Homo sapiens: one gene and its partner. The protein of the gene in region 1 interacts with the protein of each later gene in a pairwise test. Each region holds a gene or a part of one and is shown in the gene's direction. Other genes may lie near its edges. The genes, in order: PLEKHM1 and SMPD3.

Evidence for each region.
Region 2: the proteins of PLEKHM1 (region 1) and SMPD3 interact in a two-hybrid assay, tested with the Homo sapiens proteins (one large-scale study listed by IntAct).

What each region holds. Positions count from the first base shown.
Region 1 is NC_000017.11:45,480,716-45,484,535, reverse strand, and holds part of PLEKHM1 (pleckstrin homology domain-containing family M member 1), read left to right. Parts: intron 1-2,010; coding exon of another isoform or gene 2,011-2,051; coding exon 2,052-2,099; intron 2,100-3,820. UniProt on the Homo sapiens protein: Acts as a multivalent adapter protein that regulates Rab7-dependent and HOPS complex-dependent fusion events in the endolysosomal system and couples autophagic and the endocytic trafficking pathways.
Region 2 is NC_000016.10:68,438,273-68,442,092, reverse strand, and holds part of SMPD3 (sphingomyelin phosphodiesterase 3), read left to right. Parts: intron 1-3,820. UniProt on the Homo sapiens protein: Catalyzes the hydrolysis of sphingomyelin to form ceramide and phosphocholine. Ceramide mediates numerous cellular functions, such as apoptosis and growth arrest, and is capable of regulating these 2 cellular events independently.

The sequences.
Region 1 (3,820 bases):
ATTGATATATGTAAGGTATACATTGGTGGGGACAGGGTAAGGTGGATTAAAAGATTTTCCTGATTGGCAATTGGCTGAAAAAGTTAAACTTTGCCTAAAGAGTTAAAAGTCAGCAGAAGAAAAGCTTGGGGTTAAGATAAGGTGGGTTGTGAAAGCCAAGGTTCATGTAACGTAGATGAAGCCTTCAAGAGAATAGATGGTAAATGTCTCTAAGGTGTCAGACTCTTAGTTAAATCTCCTCTAAATCAGGAAAAGGCCTAGAAAGGGAAGGGAATCTCTGCAGGACATAAATTTTCCCAACAAGAGATGGCTTTGCAGGGCCATTCCAAACTATGTCAAAAATATACTTGGGGGTAAGATACTTTGATTTCCTTAGGGCCTGTTATCTCCCATGTGATGTTAGACCAGTCAGGTTGGAGTTGGTATCTTAATTGCTGAGAGTCTGTTCTGTCAGTCTTAGGAGTCTGTTTTAATGTTAATGCTGGTCAGTTGTGTCTAAGCTCCAAAAGGGAGAGGCTAGGATGAGGCATGGCCCACGCCCCACTTCGTGTCATGGCCTGAACTCAGTTTTCAGTTTTTTTGAAATCCCTTTGGCCAAGGGGGGCCCATTCAGGCAGTTGGGGAGCTTAGAATTTTATTTTTGGTTTACAGCACTCACTCAGGAATCGGGTTTTCCTAGGGCTGGGGTTGGCTTCCTCCTGGGGGCTGGTGGTGGAGTCAGGCCGCTTATCAGCCCTGGGACCTCAGGAACTTCCTTGACCTGGGTCAGCTGCCATTTCCTTATCTGTCAGGTGGAGACAATAAAACAGCACTCCTAGGGTCCTTAGGAGGAACATAAATTAGGCAATATATGTAAAGAGAACTGAGCCCATTTAACTTTTCTTGGTTTTGTTAACTTCTTTGTGCGGTGATTGAGAGCTGAGACAGACATCACCTTTCCCTTTCCCCTGATGCTCAGCCAGGAGTTGGCTAGAGATTTGTTTACGTGTGAATGTGCCTGCCTGGCCCAGGTCTGTCCAAGTTGCTGTGGTGGGGCCAAGCCAGTCAGCAGCCCCCTCAGGCTCAGGCTAAAGTCCCCACCCCACCCGCCCCACCCCACCCCACCCCACCCCACCCCACCCACTTCCAGGAGGAAGCTGGCAGCCCTGAGGGATTTAACCACTCACTGACTTCAGCTCTTCCTGCATACTCATTTAGGTGATGACATTCTTGGTCTGTAGGTTTAGGTGGCCACATCCACTGGGATGACAGATGCCAGGTACAACATATCAGGTACAGGTACATATCAGGCCCCGTGACAGGCATTTTACACATTCTCCATCTGAGAGGTCTGAGCATGCCTACCTGGTTAGTGGCAAACTGCGATGAGACCTCATGGTCATCCCGGTTAGACACGTCCCTGTCTGTGCTGCTCAAGCCAGACCCTCGAAGCCCAAATGAGGAGCAGAAGTGTAGCAAGGGAGCCCTCCCCTTTTGAAGCCGTTCCAGTGGTACTTTTTACTGCTGAGCTGGCAGATGTTGGACTGGGACAGGAGTGAGGGGTGGGGGCAGGGTGTTGCAGGACCCAGCCCCTGAATGTGATGTGTGAGCCTGTGAGCCCCTGCTTCCTGGTCCCATTGGGTTCCTGCCACCTTCAGCTGCAGCCTCCCCCTCGAACCTGCAGCTCCGTATCTGAATCAGCCTGTCGTTCCCTGCCTACAGGTTTCAATCCTACAGGGCCTTGGCTTTCTGGGCAGCATTTGATGTGAAGCGCCCTTACCACCTACTCCTTGGGGTGGACCCACCCCTGGCACCCAGGACTCCTTGCCTCCCAACGACTAAGCCCCCTGGGCTTTCCTTCCTTGTTTCTTTCCTTCAAATCTATTATCAGTTTTTACTTTTGTGTTCTGCAAAGGCCTTTTTGGTTGCAGTTTGAGTAAGAGAGGCTGACCTCCTGCTGCTTGCTGGGAATGGACTCTGGCTGGGGGAAAGTTCCCTGCCCATTCATCTGGCTGCCATCTGTCTCTTCAGGTGTCATGTGATTCTCTGAGGGAGCAGCTGCGTGAGTGGAGATGCTTTCAGTGGTGGAGAATGGACTGGACCCCCAGGCTGCCATCCCGGTAGGTGGGTGAGGGAGGATCAAGGGCGGGGAAGGGCTGCAGGGGACAGTTGTATCATCGGCTTGGCTCACTTCCTTGGGCACTGTCCTGCAAGAGAGACCAGGTTGAGAAAAAGTTACAGCACAAGCAGGCTCTGAGGAGACCCTGTCTTTTCTAGATCACCTTATTGGTGATAAGATGGAGATTTATGAAAAGCAGTGGGAATTTAAGATCAGTAACCTGAAGACCAAGGATTTCCATTCAGCCCTTCAGCCCTCTGCCCTTAGGCCATGATTTGGTCACAGTCTGGCCAAAGCACTGAATGGGTGGGAAACAGATATTCCCAGGCACTGGTTTGTTGTTTCAGTAATGGGGGTAAATTGGTAACTTACATGTATCTGAACACTTACCATTTTCTAGGATATTCTAAATGTAATTATTTGTGAGCAGTTCACTGGAGCCCCCTAGGACCTTTTCTTGGACAGCCCTTTGCACCCTCCTGGGCTATCTTGGGTACTCCAGATAGAGCTCTCTGTTCTCTTGGAGAGGCAGGAAGTCAGGTAGCTTTGGGGCTGGTCCCTTAGCAGCATCCTGAGATGGCTTTCGGGGAGAAGCCAGGATTTCCTTTCCTCCCCACTGCTGCTTCCCAGCTCAGAGAACTCTGCTTGAAAGAAACTGTAGCTCTCAGAGACGTGCCTTTCCCCGTCCTGGCCACAGGAGAGTCCAGCTCCACCTGTTTCCCAGCTGGCTTTCATGCAGAGGCTCTTCCCTCCCCTCTGCACCCCCACTCTCCCACCCCCAGTGCCTGCCGAATCCCACCCCAGGACCCTCCAGAGCTAGGGCAGAAGCCTGGCCAACCCAGCCTTCTAACAACAGCTGCACAAACTGACTCCATGAGGGTATGCCTTTCTTGAGGGTATGCCTTATTTCTCCCTGTATACCCTAACCCAACACCTAGTAGGTGCTCAATTGAACGAAGTATGTATGTACTTTTTAAATATAATATACAAATAACATCTTGCTTTTAAAAGAACATTTAAAATTAGACTATTTCAAGATTAAAAACTTTTGAGCTTCAAAGGATACTACCAAGAAAATGAAAAGACAACCCACAGAATGGGAGAAAATATTTGCAAATCAAATATCTGATAAGGGTCTAGTATCCAGAATGTATAAAGAACACTTATAACTCAACAATAAAAAGACAAATAATCCAGTTATAAAATGGGTAAAGGATTTAAATAGACCCTTCTCCAAAGAAGATACACACATGGCCAATAAAGATGCTCATTATCATTAGACATCAGGAAAATGCACATCGAAACCACAGTGAGATACTACTTCACACCCCCTAGGATGGCTGTAATAAAAAAGGCAATAACTAGTGCTGGCAAAAATGTGGAGAGATTGGAACTCATATATTGCTGGTGGGAATGTAAAATAGTGCAGCCACTTTGGCACACAGTTTGGCAGTTCCTTGATAAGTTAAACATAGGGTTATGTGTACAGTTCCACTCCTAGATATATACCCAAGAGAACTAGAAATATAAGTCCACTCAAAAACTTGTACATGGATGTTCATAGCAGCATTATTGATAATAGCAAAAGAGTAGAAACAACCCAAATGTCTATTAACTGATGAATGGATGAATAAAATGTGGTATATCTAGGCAGCGGAATATTTTCTGGCAATAAAAAGGGATGAAGTCCTGATACATGCTACAACATGATGGAAAATATGC
Region 2 (3,820 bases), on another chromosome or scaffold:
GCAAAACCCAAATTTTAAGTTGAAATAGCCCAGGCACGGTTGCTCATGCCTATAATCCCAACACTTTGGGAGGCTGAGGCAGGAGGCTTGCTTGAGGCCAAGAGTTCAAGACTAGCCTGGGTAACATAGTGAGACCCCGTCTCTATAAAAAATAAAAACATTAGCTAGGCATGGTGGTGAATGCCTGTAGTCCCAACTACTTGGGAGGCTGAGATGGGAGGATTGCTCGAGCCCAAGAGTTCAAGGCTGCAATGAGCTATGATTGTACCACCACACCCTAGCCTGGGCAACAGAGCAAGATTCTAAAATTTTTTTTAATTTAAAAAATTTTTAAAATAAAGTTGAAATAGAAACAAATAATAGAAAAAAATAGGAAAAGTAGAATGTCTGTCTATATATCTGTTGTCTAATATGGGGCCATAAGCACTTGAAATATGTCTAGTGGCAATTAAGATGTGCTATAAGTATAAAACATACACTAGCTTTTGAAAAATTAGTATAAAAAATGTAAAATGTTGCATTAGTAATGGTAATATTGATTACAGGTTAAAATAATATTTTAGATATATTAAGTAAAATATATTTAAATTAATTTCACTTGTTTCTTTTTACTTTTATAATGTGGCCACTAGAAAATTTATATTGTATATGTGGCTTGCATTTATAACTCACATTATATTTCTACTGGGCAGTGTTGTTCTAGACTGTTTCCATTTAGGAGGATATTTTCTTTATAAACTGAGGCATTTAGCAAAGTAGGTCTGTAATCAATTAGCCTGGGATTTGAATCCTGGCTCTGCTATTTGGGCTGCATAAACTTGAGCAAGTTGTGCCTTAGTTTCCTCACCTGCAGAATGAGGTGATAATAAAGCCTACCTCCTAGGTTTTGAGCTAAATCACTTAGAACAGTGACTGACAGGTCCAGAGTGAGTGTTCACTTAATATTAACTATTGTTATTACTATTGGAGGAAGCTTATGAAGTGTTACAAGATAAGGGCAACAGGAAGGAGAGCAAGCAGACAATTTTCAGATAAATCAAGCAAAAGATTTATTACTAGTTAAAACATGATTGAAAACACTTGCTAAGTATGCGGCCCCTATTTTCTGGCAGATAATGATGTCGAGGAAAGATTTCAATCCATTTACATAAGCATACAATGAATAAACAAATTAGCTAACTGCATTGTGCACAGGTCTTGACTTCAGCTAATGAGTTGAGGAAGAGGATGATTGTACCAGATGACTCAAGAGCTCTAAGTCTCTTGGACTCCCAGATTCCTCAGGGGAATCAGGGGAATGACAACCTTGTGCTCTGGGAGAAAAATTCTGGACAGGAATCAGACATACCCAAGGTCAAAGCTACTCTGCCACTTATTGGCCTTTGACAAGACACTGAGTCTCAGTTTTCTGTTCTGTAAAATGGAGATAGTACCAACTCTGTTGCAGGTTGTAGTGAGGATTAAATTAGATAATACAAATAAAACATCAGGTACATAGTAGGCACTCAACAAATGACAGCTGTGACTAAATGGGATTTCAGGTATTCTTTAATAGAGAACTTTTTGTTATTTAATATAGAATTTGCAGTTCAGGCCAAGCGCAGTGGCTCACGCCTATAATCCCAGCACTTTGAGAGGTCGAGGCGAGTGGATTTATTTAGTCCAGGAGTTCAAGACCAGCCTGGGCAACATGGTGAAACCCCATCTCTACTAAAAATACAAAATATTTGCCAGGCATGGTGGTGTGCACCTGTAGTCCCAGCTACTCAGGAGGAGGCTGAGGTGGGAGGATCACCTGAGCATGGGAGGTAGAGGCTGCAGTGAGCCAACATTGCACCACTGTACTCCAGCTTGGGCTACTGGAATGAGACCGTCTCAAAAAAACAATGAAAAAAAGAAAGAGAATTTGCTGTTCAGAATCTTCAGTGCCTTTTCTACAACTCTACTGCGTCATTCCCCATCCTTATTCAGTGCCTGAGGAGATTGAAAGGACAGTTTCACCTGATTAAGTGTGTCTACACCAAAACGTAGGATATCAGTAACTTTGGGCACACTCTACACAATCTTTCATGTTCTTCTCTGTCCAATTAACACACATGAGGCTCTTTCCTGGGATAATGAGGCAAGTAGCAAAATGGGCATTGTTCTCCATCATGTTTACCCTGAAGTTCTGACCTCGGTGTTTACAGCACTTTACAAGTAGCTTTGCTTTTAAAAAGAGAGAACGTAAATCTGGAAACCAGAGCCCAGAGCCATTTCTCCTGACTCCTAGGGCAGGCCATGGGTCCATTCACTGCATAGCTCTGAGGGAACACATATTGTTGCTGTTCTCAACCATCACCTTTTTTTCCAAAAGTTTGCCTTCTGGAGGAAGACAGCCAAAGAAATATGTATTAAGCTCAGTGAAGGCTTATGTTAACAGAGCACGTTGAACTGTAAAGAAAATACTCAGATTAGTCCTACAGGAAAAGTGAGGATCACTTCAAATGTTTTAGCAGGAGAGCAACACAGATTTCCTGACTCAAAGCATAGCGGGTGAATTGAGGTGGAAGGAGGCTCACCTCTGGTTCTGTTGGGAGGCCCCTGACTTTCAGGTACCAAGTACCAGTGCTAAGTTATTTGGGGATAGTCTGGTGTTAATATGCACATTTTCCTACTCATTCTTTCTTTTGTTAATTCAACAAATGCCAAATGATGGATAGCTAGAGTGGGGTGTTTTGAGAACCCTTCCCCAGGAGGAGACCAGGGTCTGGCTGGGGAGAGGAGAGATGCTCATATGCAGAGTGAACCAAGGAACGGGGGCTGGAGTAACCACAGGAGTCCTGATTAAGGCAAGTTGGCTATGGCAGTGGAAAAGCTATGGATGCCAACCAAACTTGAGTCTGAATCACATTTTTACCATCAAATGTGTGGCCTTGGGCAAGTGCTTTAACCTTTCCAGACTTCATCTTTCTCCTCTGGGGCAATAAAACTAACTTTTCCCGCCATGGCAATTACATGGCAACATATATGAAAATGCTTAGAGACAATACTAACCCTCGTTCAAGTGTTTACAGTGGGTCAGGCATTGTGCTCAGCAATACATATGTGTAAAAGAATACCATTATTATCCTTACTTTACGGCTGAGGAAAGCAATGCTCAGGGACTTTAAGTAACTTGCTTAAGGTCACGCAGACAGTAAGAGGACCAGGACCCCAACCCAGGCAATCTGACTGCAGAGCCTGTTCTTAACCACTGAGATCACTGCTTCTCTGGTTCAAGATCAGCAAGAACCCAGTAACTATTATTTTGAAGGAGGGAGGGTGATTTGTGGGTCAACTTGTGGAGAAGTCTTATGCTTGGTCTTCAAGCATGGGTACAATATGGATAATCTCTGAGGGGTGAGTGGGATGGGGAAGGAAGGCAAGGGAAAGTTGTGATCAAATGAACAGGGGTAGGAATGACAATGGTATGTTTGGGAGCACTGAAATGGAGAAGAGTTTCCATATGAAATAGATGTTTGGAAAGAAGAGTTGAGAAAGCCTTGAATGTCAGACTAACAAGTGTTAGAGAACCAAAAAAGCTCATAGGCAAAGAAAGGGATATGAAATCTGAGGCCATCAGTTTGAGGCATCTCACTGAATCTGGGTAATTTGTTGCAGTGTTGAGTGTGCTCACCAAGTGTCTCAAAGCCAGAGCTTCTGGAGGGTATTGCCAGGTAGCACCACAGTTGAGCATTCCTACCAGTACTATTTGGTTTTCAAATAAATTACATTATTTCTCTCATTTGGTCTTCACAAAAGCCCTGGGCAGGAGAAGGGTAGCAGGTCTGCCACAAGG